2 separate regions of the Homo sapiens genome follow, and region 2 is linked to region 1. Evidence: fine-mapped expression QTL. Tissue or cell type: whole blood. Region 1 holds a variant in brackets; the other region holds the start of a gene. All regions are shown on one strand. Distances are between the middles of the regions.

Region 1 (8,106 bases):
GAGACTTTTGAATATGGTTCTCTGTTTTTGGTAAGTAATATATATATATTTTTTGCATGCTTCAGAGAACTGTGGAGAAAACTGAGATGTGTTAGCATTTAGTTATCTATTAGTCAATAATATTGCAGAACCAGGTGGGCAGATTTACATTTAGTTGTTAATTCATTGTCTTGTCAGTACTGGGGTGTTAATAGGTTTCAATACAACAAAACTGCATATGGAAAAAAAAATCCTCAATTTCAGTATTTTGTATCAAGTATCACCGTTCCTTTTAATAGTGTGCTGAAAAATGAAGTTACTTTAATATTTTAGTATAATTAGTAGTTTAAGTGCCTGATACAATCAGGTTATATTTTATTTTTCTGAAAAAGTTGGGTTGTCAACTTTAAAATGTATTGGACAGCATTTAAGAAAGGGCTTGGGAGTGCTGGTAAACATGTCAACATAAAAATAACTCCTGGACTCTTGCGGAGGAGGCAGCTCTGGGAAGTAGAGCCCTCTTGTATGAGCAAGAGTGTTCTTGATTTTTCCTCTGACCGGCCAATAATGATTTTTGGCAAGTAATTTTTCGAGACCCAAAGATGAAAGGATTGGACCTAGTGGATGTGTGAAGCCTCTTGCAGCCTTAATATATTAATTCCTGGTATATAAAATAAAATCTTTTACTTATGTATAGTGAAAAACCAGTATGTTTTCCATAGCGCCTGTCTAAAATATTTGGGGGGGACCTAGAGAGTGCTGTTTAAAGAATAAAGAATTCACATGCAGTGTAAAGGTGATTTTCCTTTAAACATGCATGTGTTTTTGAGAATAGTGTGTAGAAATTGGTTTTCTGGGTTTTAAAAACATTTGACAGGCCACTGTTGGTCGTTGGGCATGTGTCCTCAGCCCTATTTTTGGCAGTGGGGACTTAGGTGTATTTTCAGCCCCAGACAGGCTGTCCTTGGGTGCCTGTCCTCTGGGCCAGGAAGGGAGCTAAGTGCCAGCGGAGAAAGGCAGGTGTGACACAGACAGCCTGTCCCTTGGAGGGCTCGTGGCAAGAGGAATGAAGCACATAGAATAGCAAGTGCAGAAGGGCTGACTTAGGTGTGTCTTCAGGGTGCATGGGGACCACAAGGGAGGGAATTGTCAGGTCCGTTTAGAAGACAAGGTTAGGAAAGACCGAAGATATTCTAGATTCTCTAAAACATCAGTTTAGACATGTTTGGGCTTTAACAACCAGTCTTCTCTATTTGGAAGAAGGGTACACCACAGTGATTTCTAAACTAATGAGTTCATCCGTTGTTTCAAAACTCAGATTTAGTTTTTAAGTTATCTTGAAGTCAAACTTAGAAAACCGATATCATTTATAATTTTAATTTTTTTGCAAAATTAAATTACAACATACTCTTAATTCTAATCAACATTCTTAGTTTGGCATTTACAGATATACATAGAAACACGATGTTTATTCTCTTGATTTATGGGAGACTTTTTTTGGTGTGTCAGTCCCCAGCTACCAAAAACTCTATCATAAAGTTTCTTTTTCTTTAATGACATTTGTCTTGAATTTAAATTGGTTGTGTAATTTTGAAACTAAAAGTTTTCCTGATTTGTGCATTGAGTCTTAGGGTTATGTTGCCCCTGTGCAGCTTGAAAACCTGTTTTTCAGGCTCCCGATGTGGTACTGAGGTAAGGATAGAATCATCAGGTTGAAATGGATCCTAGTATGTCTTGGAGAAACAGCACTTTTCGCCTCAGGAATCTGGCTGTTAGGATTCATAATTAGATATGAAATACTTTGTAAGTCTTGAAAGATTGTCCCATATTCGCATATGCTTATCAACTGGCATAAGGGACTCTTTTTTCTTTTTTGCTTTCTTTTTTTTTTTTTTTTTTTTTTTTAAGGCAGAGTCTTGTTCTTGCTCTTTCGCCAGGCTGGAGTGCAGTGGCAAGATCTCGGCTCACTGCAACCTCCGCCTCCCAGGTTCAAGCAATTCTCCTGCCTCAGCCTCCCAGGTAGCTGGGACTACAGGCGTGCACCACCACATCCAGCTAATTTTTGTATTTTTAGTAGAGACGAGGTTTCACCATATTGTCCAGGATGGTCTTGATCTCTTGACCTCATGATCCACCTGCCTCGGCCTCCCAAAGTGCTGGGAATACAGGCGTGAGCCACTGCCCCCGGCCTACTCTTTTTTCACGATCATGTCTGAAGCACAGTGCTCTCTAATTTTGCTAGTTTACCTCTTGCACATTTCCATGTCTCTGGGAAGGAGGACTGGAAAGTGTCTGGGCAGACCCTCATAGGCCACTGGCTTTGCACTTACTGTAGAGAGCTGAATGAATTTGCTGCGTGTTTTCCTGAAACATGAATGTCGGTTGGTCACTTCAGCAGCACTCAAAGGCTCTTACTGCCCTGGATTGACGAAGAGACCATGCTGGAGGGATGTTAATTTTCTTTTTCTTTGAGATGGAGTCTCCTCTCTCACCCAGGATGGAGTGCAGTGGCGCGATCTCGGCTCACTGCAACCTCTGCCTCCCAGGTTCACGCATTTCTCCCAAGTAGCTGGGACTACAGGTGCACATGCCTGGCTAATTTTTTGTATTTTTATTAGAGATGGGGTTTCACCACGTTGGCCAGGCTGGTCTCGAACTCCTGACCTCAAGTGATCCGCCCACATTGGCCTCCCAAAGTGCTGGGATTACAGGCGTGAGCCATCGCGCCCGGTCGGATGTTAATTTTTACTGTTGCTTTGTTGGCCTTGGCCTGCCTTAGGCCTTGAGTTTACTGAATCCCTAGACTGCCTGCAACCTCACAGCTCATTGGTGGTCAGGGTGTATCTGAATCTTTAGAAAAGTTCTTATTTGGAAGAAGGAACTTGATTTTTATTTGAAACGGGGCTAGATGTAGCTCCTCACAACAGAGGTTATGTGTTCATGATAGTGTGTGAGATAAAGGGAGTGGAGACTTAACCTAAAAGGAAAGGAATTGATATTTATTCAGTGCTTGCTCTGGGTCAGGCACTTTGCTCAGGTGCCTTAGTTATATTATGCCATTTAATGGGCCCTGTAACGCTCAGGTGCTTTCCATACATTGTTATTTACTCTTCCCAATAACAACAGGGCAATTGTTGTCGACATTTTAATACTTCAGCGAGGTCACTTAAAACTCACACAGCTGGTAAATAGTAAAATTGGGATTCACACTCAGAGCCCTCACTTGAATCCTGGCCTTTTCTGCTCCATACACCATACGGTTTCAAAATTTTTGGAATGTTGGCTCTGAAAGGCAAAACAAGTGATTTGCTGAAGATTCACTTTTGTAAATTGATGAGCAGTTTGCCTTACTTTTTAAAAGAAGGTTTTCTCTGGGAGGTTAACTTTTGGGTTGCTTTTTAAAAGAAGATTTTTCTCTGGGAGATGAATTTAGCCAGCTTTAATTTAACCTAGCCAGAGACAGAAGATCTTTGTTAGTTTGTGTACAGTCACTTGCTTTTCTTGGCCAATTCTGTATTGTTCTCCAGTGCCAAAACATGACCTCCAGCTGTTCTCATGGGTGATTGGCCTGCTAAGTTATTGTTGAATTCACCTAATGTATGAATTCGACTGCCATCGGCATTGGGCTTTATGTGTATCTATCGGAAATTAACACTTGAGATTTATTAAAGAAAGAAGAGTGATGACAGGGAACATGCTGCTTTACAAGCACGGATTTTAGAGTAGTTTCAAATTGTAGCTCCACCATTTACTGGGCAAAGTGACCTCTGGCAGGTTACTAAGTCTCTATTGAGCTCAGTTGTTCTTTGTGTCAAAAAAAGGGTCAAACTCTGTAATATATTTGAAGAGATTTATTCTGAGCCAAACATGAGTGACCAGTGGCCCATGACACAGCCCTTAGGAGATCCTGAGAAGATGGGCCTAAGGTGATCGAGGTACAGCTTGCTTTTACACATTTTAGGGAGACATAAGACGTCAATCAGTACATGTAAGGTATACAGTGGTTCTGTCTAGAAAGGAGAGACAACTGGAAGTGGAGGCAGCTTCCAGGTCACAGGCAGATTTAAAGATTTTCTTTCTTTTTCTTTCTTTTTTTTTTTTTTTTTTTGAGACAGATTCTCTGTTGCCCAGGCTGGGGGTGCAGTGGTGTGATCTCTCGGCTCACTGCAGCCTCTGCCTCCCGGGTTCAAGTGATTCTCTTGCCTCAGCCTTTTGAGTAGCTGGGATTACAGGTGAGGACCACCACACCCAGCTAATTTTTTTGTATTTTTAGTAGAGACTGGCTTTCCTCATGTTGGCCAGGCCGGTCTCGAACTCCTGGCCTCATGTGATCTGCCCACCTCGGCTTCTCAAAGTGCTGGGATTACAGGTTTGAGCCACCACCCCCAGCCTAAAGATTTTCTAATTGGCAGTTGGTTCAAAGAGTTAAAGACCTGGAATCAACAAAAAGGAATGTCTGGG[T/A]TAAGATAAGGAGCTGTGGAAACCAAGGTTTTATCATACAGATGAAACCTTCAGGTAGCCGGCTTCAGGGGGAGTTGATTGTAAATGTTGCTTATCAGACTTAAAAGAGTCTGTTCTATCAGTCTTAAGGTCTTTGTTGATGTTAATGCTGGTCAGCTGTGCCTGAATTCCAACCCTTCGGAGAGTATAATTATGTCTGACTCCCCCTTCCTTTCATATCCTGAACTAGTTTTTCAGGTTAACCTTGGAATGCCCTTGGCCGAGAGAAGTGGTCCCTTCAGATGGTTGGGGGGCTTAGAATTTTATTTTTGCTTTACATTAATGTAAAGGGAGAATTGCAAATTGTAGTTTGGTGTTGGAATTCACACTGTGAGTAAGGCTCAGACTCCCATTTCCTCTATGTAGAATAGAAACATTTATTGGGTGCATACTATGTATTATACATATGGTGATGATTGTTAGGATGTAGGGAAAAAAGAGACCCTGTCTGAGTGCCTAGTGCAGTGGGTAATACTGTTGCAGGAGTTTTTCTCAACCCATTTGTAAAACTTGCGATGGGGGTGCCCCATTCAGCCCGCCATGCTCAACCTCTTGCGGGCAGGAGTGTGTGGGCAAGTGAGTACAGGATCCAGCCAGCCACTTTGAGCACCGGCAGGAGCATGCTGTGTGCAGGCCCCACAGTGGTGCCCAGGTGGTGGTGTCTGTGACCCTAAAGCCCCAGAGGGCATGCTACAGTGCTCTCTTGGCTCCACCATCCATGGACACCGGTGTGTCATCAGCTCAGTGGGCCCTTTGCCTCACTGTGTGGGGCAGCTGCCCTCCAGTAGCGAGGGCAAAGGGTCAGTGTGATAACCTTTTTTGGGTACCCAAAGTTGGTGGGTCCCAAGCTCTTGTCCACTGTCCAAGAAGAATTGGGTCACATGGACACCTGAAGGATGGTGGAGGCAGATAATTTTATTTAGCAATGAAAGTGGCTCTCAGCAGAGAGGGTAGCTGAAGACGGGACAGGACGGGCAGATAATCTTCCCTAAAGTCTGGCCATCTACACTTGGCTCTTCTCCAAAGCTAAGCCATCTCTCCTCCAAAGTCCAGCTGTCTGTCTGCCATCCAAGTACTAACCAGGCCTGACCCTGCTTAGCTTCAAAGATCAGGCGAGATTGGGTGTGTTCAGGGTGATATGACAGTAGACTCAGCTGTCCTCTGAAGTCTCCAGTTGATATGATTTGGCTGTGTCCCCACCCAAATCTTGTATTGAGTTCCCACATGTTGTGGGAAGGACCCAGTGGGAGGGAATTGAATAATGGGGGGGCAGGTCTTTGCCATGCTGTTCTCATAATAGTGATTAAGTCTCACAAGATCTGATGGTTATTATAAGGGAGAGTTTTCTTGCATGAGCTCTCTTTGCCTGCTGCCATCCATGTAAGACATGTCTTGCTCCTCCTTGCCCTCTGCCATGATTGTGAGGCTTCCCCAGCCACGTGGAACTCTTAAGTCCAATTAAACCTCTTTCTTTTGTAAGTTGCCCAGTCTCATGTACGTCTTTATAAGCAGCGTAAAAATGGACTAATACATCAGTCAAGCCGCTTGTCTCCCCTACCAAGTGAGTCTGGGGTCTTTACATGAATGGGATGTGGGGGGCAAGGCAGGCCATAGGTAGTTTTGGAAAAGGCAACTTTCAATTGGTAAAAAGACATTATTCAGAAAGAACTAATTAGGAGAGAGTGGGCAAACAGGTTTAGAAGTTCTCACTTTAGGCTGTGGGTTTCAGGGTTTTTGCCTTGAAGGTGGGGTTTTGCTGGGGACCTGCCCCCGTCTGCCTAGAATTTCTCTGCCTCCTGCCTCTATCAATACAGTAAACAGGCAAGGGTATGTTGATTGCTAAGTTGGGAGTGTGAGTAGACTGCTGTGCTGCAGGAGGGGGAACAAGATGTGGTGGTGGGCAGAGTTGTCAAGGAAGGCTTATAGGGGACATCACATGTTGTCACTAGCTGGAATTTGAAGGGCAGGTATTCTGGGTAGAGTACAAAGCTGAAGAAATATGAGAAGATTTTCTAATTTAGGGGACTCTAGGTAGGTGTGGTGGGAGCTGGGAGAATGGAACCCTGAGCAGTAGGGAATAAGGTGAAGAGGATGGCAGGGGCTTCCATATGCAAAAGGATTGCTGGGCCTTGTGAAGAAGATGTTATCTGGAAGACAGACAGAAGGTGTCTAACCCTATTCGAGTTTGAGAGAGATTGCCCTAGCAGGCAGATAAAAGATGAATTGAAAGCTGGAGAGACCAGAAAGATCCTGTGGACATCGTTTCAGTAATCTTGCTGAGAAATGACAGCAGATGGAAAAGAGAAACAGCTTTCATTGTTGAAGTTGGGTGCCTGGGTATGTTGTGGTGAATACAGGAAGAGATAAGTTTTGAGATAGATAGGAAAGTAAGATTAATTTTAGAAAATGCTTCATGTTCTTGTTCTTTAAAATGGGGTACAATAAACCTACCAACTTCACAGGATTATTATGAGGGTTAAGTGAATTGATACATATACTTAGAATTTAGAATAGTATTCTATACGGGCTATATGTTAGTAAGTTAAGTAGAGTCATATGGTTTGGCTGTGTCCCCACCCAAATCTCATCTTGAATTGTAGCTCCTGTAATTCCCACATATTGTGGGAGGGACCTGGTGGGAGATAATTGCATCATGGGGGTGGTTTCCCCCATACTGTTCTTGTGGTAGTGAGTAAGTCTCATGAGATCTGATGGTTTTATAAGGGGAAACTGCTTTCCCTTGGCTTTTATTCTCTCTTGTCTGCTGCCTTGTAAGATGAACCTTTCACCTTCTGCCATGATTGTGAAGCCTCCCTAGCCACGTGGAACTCTGAGCCCATTAAACTGCTTTTTCTTTATAAATTACCCAGTCTCAGGTGTGACTTTATCAGCGTTGTGAAAATGGACTAATACGTAGAGGTGCTTGAAGGATGCTGAGTTGGGATGTATAGAAAGAAGTTAGGTATATGGGAAACTCAGGAGAGAGTACTGGTTGAACATGTGGATTTGGATGTACCAGTGTACACGTGGCAATTGAAACAGCAGCCAAGATCATGTAGGAAGAGTACATGGTGAGGAAAGAGAACAGGGCCAAGGCTAGGTCTTCATGAAGACTAGCTGTATCAGTCTGTTCTCACATTGCTATATAAAGAACTACCTGAGACTGGGTAATTTATAAAGAAAAGAGGTTTAATTGACTCACAGTTCCACAGGCTGTACAGGAAGCAAGGCTGCAATGTCTTGTATGACTGGAGGAGGAGGAAGAGAGTGAGGGGGCAGGTGACACACCCTTTTAAACAACCAGATCTTGTAAGAACTCACTGTCATAAGAACAGCAAGGGGGAAGTCTGCTTCTATGATCCAGTTACCTCCCACCAGGTCCCTCCTCCAGCACTGGGGATTACAATTCGATGTGAGATTTGGGTGGGGACACAGATCCAAATTATATCACTAGCTTCCAAAGGTACAGAAGAATAGGACCCAGAAAAGGAATAACCGGACAGGTAGAAGGAAAACCAGGAAAGAGCTTTGTCAGGAAACCAGAGAATGGAGTTATTAACGTTCGATGTGTAGAGAGAGCCCCCAGGGGAAGGATTGAAAACTAGCTTGAATTTAACTTGTGACACT
Region 2 (8,106 bases), 330 kb before region 1:
GGCGTGGTGGCAGGTGCCTGTAGTCCCAGCTGCTTGGGAGGCTGAGGCAGGAGAATGGTGTGAACCCAGAAGGCGGAGCTTGCAGTGAGCTGAGATCCTGCCACTGCACTCCAGCCTGGGCTACAGAGGAATACTTCGACTCAGGAGAAAAAAAAAAAAAAAAAAGAGTGTTCACGGCTGTTAGACACACAAGACAAACCATCTAAAACAGATACTGATAGTAGTAACCAATAAAAAAGCATCCAAAATGAGCAGCCCAGAAACAGATGAAGAGATTGAAAAGATGAAGGTTTTGGTGAATATTCACGGTCACCTACATTTTGATCCTTTTAACCTTAAAAGGAGATTTTTTTAATTTGGCTGATGGGTAAAGTCAAACATTTCCATTGTTTTTACTAGGTTGAGCTACTTGCAGTAATACAGGTAAGTTCATTTGTTTTTACTATATTCACCTCTTTGCAGTAATCCACAGATAAGTCTTAGTGCATTTATTTTACAAAGTACTTTTTCAAACATCAGATCCTTTTATTTCCAAACCTTTTTTCGCCTTTCAATAAGTTGTTGAGGGAAAGGCTTACACACATTCTTTAGAATTGGAAAAGTGAGGCCAGGCACAGTGGCTCACAGCTGTAATCCCAGCACTTAGGGAAGACAAGGCAGGAATGATTGAGGCCAGGAGTTAGAGACCAGCCTGGGCAACACAGTGAGACCCATCTCTATTAAAAAAAAAAAAAAAGTATTAGAAAAGCTAGAATAGCCTTATTTTCACAATGTGGAAAGAAATTTATATGAAATTTATCTGAGTCATTAAAATTATCCTTAGGTGATAATTTTTTAGAAGTACATTACAGCTAGTGTTGCCAGATAAAATGCTGGATCTCACGCAGTACCTTTGCAAAACATGATCTAAAATTTAAATTTGTCCTACATTTGTACTTGCTAAATCTGGCAGCCTTAATTATTACACAACTATAACGCAACACAAACAATAATCTCTCCCCTAGTTTAGAGTCCTTTGCACGAAATTTAGCAAATCCTTAATTTTGAGTACAGTACAAGCCTGGTAATCCAGTGTGTTTGGGATAGGCTGGTGGAACTCAGAACTGATACATATATACATACATGTCTATCACATTCACTGTCTATTAGGTGTAAATCATCTTTTTATGTAAAAGACACTACTGGTTTGAGGATAGAGTTGTCTAGGAATGTTTTGTCCTGCTGTGACAGCATCACTATGCATCCCAGTGTAACATTCCTACAAAGGGAAGATCTCTTAACCAGGCATACTTACATTTGCTAGTTAGAAAACCATTCTGAGCAGTTTTAACTCCATTCAGTTGAATGGTGTACTACATTGTATGAGCTATTTGTGGACCAGATATAAATGACTATCACCCAGAACCACTTTCATTCAACATATGTAAAATGTGATGAGTGTTAACATTTTAAATAAGCGATCTGCTTAATGAACACTGATTGGTATGAAGGGGAAGTGTCATTCTTTACCTCACTCCTGAAACACTTTTCTATCCAAAGGTTGGTTTGAGTCAGTATTGGCGTCATACAACCACTTACTATAAAATAAGTTTACTGGTGGTAATGTGATGGAATTTATTCCGGATATCTGATGTTATAAACTTTAGGGTCCCTGAAATATGCAGGATCCTTGTATGTAACTGGCATAAACCCTGTAAAGAGATAATTAAAGTTCTTGACAAAGCATAATGAGCAAAATTTCAGCTAGCTCAATACAGTTGTTGAGGTGCTCTTTCTTACCCATTGTTTGAGCTCTCTTAATTGCTTTTGTGATTTGTTTCTTCCCACAAAGACCTGTAAAATAAAAAGCTTCCTTATTCATAAAAAAGTCAATATTTAAAGTTAAAAAAATGTTTATTTCTCAAACTGAAACATTATTTCTCTATCTCTTGACCTTTTAGTACACGTTTTTGTATATTCGGTTTTACTAAATCAAGTCAAACCTGTTCCAGGTAATGTGATGTTATACATGATAGGTTTCATTTAGGGTGGGGTGGCTAAGTTGCAACCCTTTTAAATCAAGGCTCCACCTCAGGAACCTAGGAATGTTAGGTAGGAGATGAGGAAGTCCACAGCTTGCCAAGAACTTCAGCTATTCCATAAACAATCTGATTACATATCCCGACTCTTGCACACGAAACAGGTTATCCAAGTCTTAAACTTGATGCTTTTGTGCAGTATGAACCACCCTTTCCGTGGACATAATCATGCATTTGCACATTTAAATACCATTTTCTATGAACAGATCAGTATGCCAAAAACCACTGCAAAGTCTCCTACACACACCTTGCCTTGACTTTCTGTACATTTCTAGTATTAAAGAATGGTGTAGGCAAAATAAAGATATATGTGTAAGAAAAAAAAGACATGCATGAAATGGTTTAATTTTAGGGAACTAGATTTATATTTTATCTGAAAAGAGTATTAATAATATATAATAGACCTTTGAAAGTTAGACGCATAGTTCTGCGAAAGTGGTGCCTAAGAATAGTATGTCAATTGACAAATTTTTTCCATAAAGAATCTGATTTTGCTAGACTACCTAATCACCAATTAACATCCTCCAGTAGGGAAAAAAATATGCTTGGTGACATGTTTAAATCGCTCTCAAGAGTACTGAAGATGAATGATCTTCCAATCAAGTAGCTATTTGATTTAGTAATAACAACTAAAAGATGGGAATCCTCTTCTTCGCACACTCATTTTAAGCTCCAAGGTAATTCCATAGATTCAACATTTAACACGTATATTCAATATTACACATTTTTTTTCCGGAGTGAAATGGCTCTGAATGCCTTACAGAATTTGCCCTGCTCTCCTTAACTAAATACTTTGTCTATTAATACTTCTTTCTTCTTTTCCCCTTGTTCTTTCTGTGCCAGACCCACACACGTCTGCTGTAATTGAACATGCCAGGCACATTCTCCATTTAAAGCCTTTTAACAGCTGCTGTCTCTGCCTAGAATACTCTTACTTGGGCACACACAAAACTAGCTTCCTGGTCTCCCTCAACTGTCTGCTCAAACTTCACCTCCTTAATCATGTCTATCTGTCCCTCTTATTTAAAATTGTAACTCTACCACTTCTGATCTCCACACTTGATGCCCCTGGCCTCCCTTTTCCTCCACTGCATTTGTCACTAACATCCCGTATAATTTTCTTAGGTATTATGTTTATTGCCCATTTCTCACCGAGAACATACGCCTCAGGGTGGAAGAAGTTTGTCTTTTTGTTGTTGTTCACTGCTTATCCCCAGTGTCAGGAGACATGCTTGGCACATTGTAGGTCCGCAGTAAATATTTTTTGAATTAATAAAGAATATTTCTACCATCTGCTAGCTTACTGTTCATGCAGGAGCTCAAATGTGCTTTAAGCATGTGATATGTTTCAAAAGTCAAACTTCATCCTTAGGGAGAACACTGTCATCTTCTCCTCCTTTAAAAAAAAAAAATAGGAAAAAAAGCAAAACAAAACATCACCTTCTCATTTCCCCACCTCCAACAAAAAGAGTGTTGAGTTTTCTAAAGAAATAATACAAATGGATAAAACTGCAATTTGTTGTCCTTTCTCTCACATGCAAAAAGAAAAGAAAAAATACTGCCGAGATTTCGGCAGCGTGCTGAGCTTCATCAAAGCATTAAAACAATGCTGCTTGAGACGTCAGAGGCTCATCCAGGAAGTGCAACCCAGAGGGCAGGATTTCCTGCTGGACTTTGAAATCCAACCCGGTCACCTACCCGCGCGACTGTGTCCACGGATGGCACGAAAGCCAAGCGAGTCCCCCTGCCGAGCTACTCGCGTCCGCCTCCTCCCAAGCTGAGCTCTGCTCCGCCCACCTGAGTCCTTCGCCAGTTAGGAGGAAACACAGCCGCTTAATGAACTGCTGCATCGGGCTGGGAGAGAAAGCTCGCGGGTCCCACCGGGCCTCCTACCCAAGTCTCAGCGCGCTTTTCACCGAGGCCTCAATTCTGGGATTTGGCAGCTTTGCTGTGAAAGCCCAAGTGGGTAACCAACAGCTTGGAGGACCCGAGTGGATTCGATTCTCTCTCACTCCTCGGCCACTCAACTGCTCCTTGTCCCTGACTCCGCGGTGGGGATGAATAACTCAACTCATTTCGGGCCGCTTTTCTCAGAGGGCAAAGATGGGTCAGGGTGGGATGTTACATTAGTGTTGAGACTCTTTGGATCCGTTTCGTGGGTACCGAGGACGCCTGGGTACGCGGGACAGGCTGCACCCGCCTGCTAGAGGCGCCCCATCGAGGCGCCACGGGTGAAGCTCCCGGCCCCACCTACGGGGCGGGGCTCCGGCTCGGTCCGACTATTGCCCGCGGTGGGGGAGGGGGATGGATCACGCCACGCGCCAAAGGCGATCGCGACTCTCCTTCTGCAGGTAGCCTGGAAGGCTCTCTCTCTTTCTCTACGCCACCCTTTTCGTGGCACTGAAAAGCCCCGTCCTCTCCTCCCAGTCCCGCCTCCTCCGAGCGTTCCCCCTACTGCCTGGAATGGTGCGGTCCCAGGTCGCGGGTCACGCGGCGGAGGGGGCGTGGCCTGCCCCCGGCCCAGCCGGCTCTTCTTTGCCTCTGCTGGAGTCCGGGGAGTGGCGTTGGCTGCTAGAGCGATGCCGGGCCGGAGTTGCGTCGCCTTAGTCCTCCTGGCTGCCGCCGTCAGCTGTGCCGTCGCGCAGCACGCGCCGCCGGTGAGTGAGCTTGAGCCGAGGCGCAGAGAGGGGCGTGCAGGTGCGGGCGCGGATGGAGGCGCAGGTGTGGCGGCGCGAGCGGGTACAAGGAACACCTCGTGCTGGGCAGCTTCTTTACGGGGGTCTGTGGTTTCGTGCACAGGGGTGTGGGTGCAGAGCGGGCTGGCGAACCCCGTCCTCGGTAGATTCGGTGCTACCTGCAACTAGAACTCCTTTAAAGGAAATCCTAGTCTCTGCAGGATACCTGGGTGTGATTCGCACATTCTTAGATTTGAGTGAGTGTACTTGAATAACCAGTTCCAGGCCCTTGCATTTTGAAGTGTTTAAATAAAATGTTCCGGTGGACCTGTGTGCATTACTCAATCAAGGACAGACTGCCTGATGGTCAGGTGCTTTCTCCCGAAGAAGTTCAGGAGTTCAGCCCAGGATACTGCAGGGCCGTGGGAAACGCTGAGTGGTCCCAAGCTTGGGCGGTGCGAGCAGCCCAGAGCAGGCCCCAAAGGGCCCCCTGTGGCCTTTTGCACCCAAGTCATGGGATCGCCTGTCCCGTGGCTCTTTCCCACGAGCAAGTCACAGGGCTACGGACTTCCTAACTGCAAGAGACAGTGAGGGACGAGCGTGACTCTTTCATTTTACAGAAGAGGAAGTAGACCTAGAGTGAGAAAATATTTAGCCAGAGGTTACACTGTTGTTTACTGAACATGCGTAACGTCCGAGCCTCTTGACGCCCAGTACTCTTTCATAATTCATTTCTTTATAAAGCAATCAGACTGCGTTTGTCTTTGCCAACAGAATCGGATAAGTAGGAACCTGGCGCATCTGGCCTGAGGCTAGATGGTGATGGTCTTGAATAGTTTAGGTAGGTTATTGAAAGTGGAAGCAAGATGTGCATTGTCTTCTTTTATACCTGTAAGGAGAAATTCTTTAAAATCATGGTGGGATATGATTTAGCCATTAAAATTGATATAATGTTCAGCAGATAAAAGTAGAATCCAGAATAGTATATACAGTTTTTCCTGTAATAGGAAAATACACAGAACATGTATGTGGACACGATTAAAGGCCTTAAAATAAAATTGCTCCATTGTGGGTAGGGAATTAATTTGCTTGACGGTAGTTGGTTTTATGGGAATTGGGAGAGACTTTGATACTTTGATACTGTCAGGGCCCTTCATTGAAAGACCACCAGGAACACACCATAAGCTGAACAAATTGGGTTTAGTGTTCTTTGAGGCAAAGGAGACCACACACCATGAGCGACGGACGGTAGGTTATAGAAAAAAACCCATTACAGAATTTGAACTTCGGTTGCATGATTTGGGGTAAGACTGAGGAACCGGGCTTTGCTGTAGATAGAATGCTGTTAGAAGGTGGGGCAATTCTGACTGAGTAAAGAAGGAACAGCCATTCTGTTTAGCACGAGAAGGGGATGTTTGGTGTTTTGTGCGTTGCAGGTGCCCTTGTTTTTGTCTGTTCTTAGAGAAAATCTTCAAGTGGCATTGCTTTGTCTTGGTGTGTCATGTCTCAGAATAATCTTATCCGACGTAGGTATCTGTGGGATTGTTGATGTCCAGGAGGAAAACAGAGCTTACCTGGCTGTGAGTGTCAGATCGGCTTGTAATAATATTGAGAGATAGCTGTGGGACTCAGAGCAGTTTCAGGTGTTGGAGGCTGTTTTTTCTTCTTTCTCAATAGCTTTATTTATTCTAGCAAAAGTATTTTGATAGCTATTTTCAGAAGAAGAATTAACAACCTCTCAATGGATATAATAGTTCTTATCTAGAACAGCGATTATCAAAGTCTAGTCTGGCCACTGGTGTCACTTTGGGAAGCTGTTTTCACAGGTTTTCAATGAAACTGGAAAAATAAGAATGCAAAACTAAAATTATTAATTTAGAATGTTAATCTTTACTCTGATTGTATGGACTTCAAGTTTTCATTGTTGCAAACGTGTTCTTAAAAATAACGGCAGAGGTAGATGTTATGTGCATGGAATTTGTTTTGTTTTAACATCTCCATTTGGCAGAATAAAAATTTGGACCCTCCTGTGCCAAGGCCTCATTAATTTTTTTTTACTGGCCTGGAAAATCCTGGGATCCATGCACTGAAGGACCTTTAGAACCTTACAGAAGTTTAGTGACTTCATTCTCTGAGAAGAATAAGCAGTTTTTCAACTGGAGTCATTATATGATAAACTATAGCCTCATGGTAACAAAAGATATTTCAAAAGTACTTTCAATAAATATGAATAATGAGAAGCAGCTTTAAATTGGAAACAAGTCATTTGATTTAGAACATCTGTAAGGATTTTTTGTGTGTTTGTTTTTGAGGCTTTTCACAATATTCCTATGTGAAGGTCCTCCTGAGTTATTCTTCATTATTGAATTTTTTAGGAGTCTATTAAGAGATGATGGTGAAGACAGTGGCACAAGAAATGTCTGGAGAGATAGCGCCAGATGACATCATCCAGGGTTCTGTAGACTCTTATTAAGGATTCAGAAATTTATCCTAAAAAATGGGAGGATCTGGAACCAGCCAATGGGAGGCCATTAGATGGTTTTAGACAAGATAACATTTTCACTTTAAAAAGATGAGTCTGGATTGGAGGTCAGCAAGGGTAGATATGAGGAGACTAGTCCAGAAAAGAAAACAGGGTGCGTTGAAGGATGGTGGCGCCAGGGGTGAGGGAGAGAAGTAGATGTTCTAGAAAAAAATCAGGAGGGCGAATGAGCTGAAGGAATCGTTGGGTGAGGATGAGGGAGTGAGGTGTCAGCGTGACCTGCACATTGCTGAAGTGCTTCGCTGGGCGAATGGTGGCATCCGTTCCAGGAAACATGGGGAGGGGAAAGCTTGGGGGCTAAAGAATGAGGATCGTTTTCATTTGGGGTGTATGTTAAATTTCAGGTGGCAGAGAGGCATCCAGCAGGCCACTCGGACTGGCACTCAGAAGAGAGACACTGAGAGTCACTGGCATAATGATATTATATTTGAAGCCCTTGGAGCAGATGAACTTACCTAGAAATAGGATAGAGAAAGAGAAGAAAAGAGAACTAGGCAAAGGCTAAGTAACTTGCACATGTATGTGTCAAGAAGAGGAGAAATTGCCAAAGTTAAAACAGGACAGGCCGGGCGCGGTGGCTCATGCCTGTAATCCCAGCACTTTGGGAGGCCAAGGTGGGCAGATCACGTGAGGTCAGGAGTTTGAGACTAGCCTGGCCAACATGGAGAAACCCTGTCTCTACTAAAAATACAAAAATTAGCTGGGCATAGTGGCTCACGCCTGTAGTCCCAGCTACTCAGGAGGCTGAGGCGGGAGAATTGCTTGAACCTGGGAGGGAGAGGTTGCAGTGAGCCAAGATCCTGCCATTGCA

Evidence for each region. PIP is the estimated chance that this variant, and not a neighbour inherited with it, causes the effect.
Region 2: it holds the start of ASAH1, and the variant in region 1 is fine-mapped to the expression of ASAH1 in whole blood (TOPMed, PIP above 0.99).

What each region holds. Positions count from the first base shown.
Region 1 is chr8:17,745,641-17,753,746 of GRCh38, reverse strand. MTUS1 (microtubule associated scaffold protein 1) reads left to right here. Exons shown (of 15, transcript NM_001363059.2): 2 at 1-30. It also overlaps the pseudogene RNA5SP256. Among named protein-coding and RNA genes, the nearest start is that of MTUS1, 51 kb to the left of the region's middle. The variant T/A (reference allele first, on the strand shown) is at 4,441.
Region 2 is chr8:18,080,610-18,088,715 of GRCh38, reverse strand. ASAH1 (N-acylsphingosine amidohydrolase 1) reads left to right here and starts at 4,609. Exons shown (of 14, transcript NM_177924.5): 1 at 4,609-4,735. The coding sequence starts at 4,658. ASAH1-AS1 (ASAH1 antisense RNA 1) reads right to left here and starts at 3,848. Exons shown (of 5, transcript NR_125429.1): 1 at 3,777-3,848; 2 at 3,231-3,474; 3 at 1,780-1,833; 4 at 1,579-1,691. It also overlaps the pseudogene MRPS18CP3. RefSeq lists enhancers at 3,627-4,162, 3,963-4,242, 5,043-5,152 and a silencer at 4,493-4,692.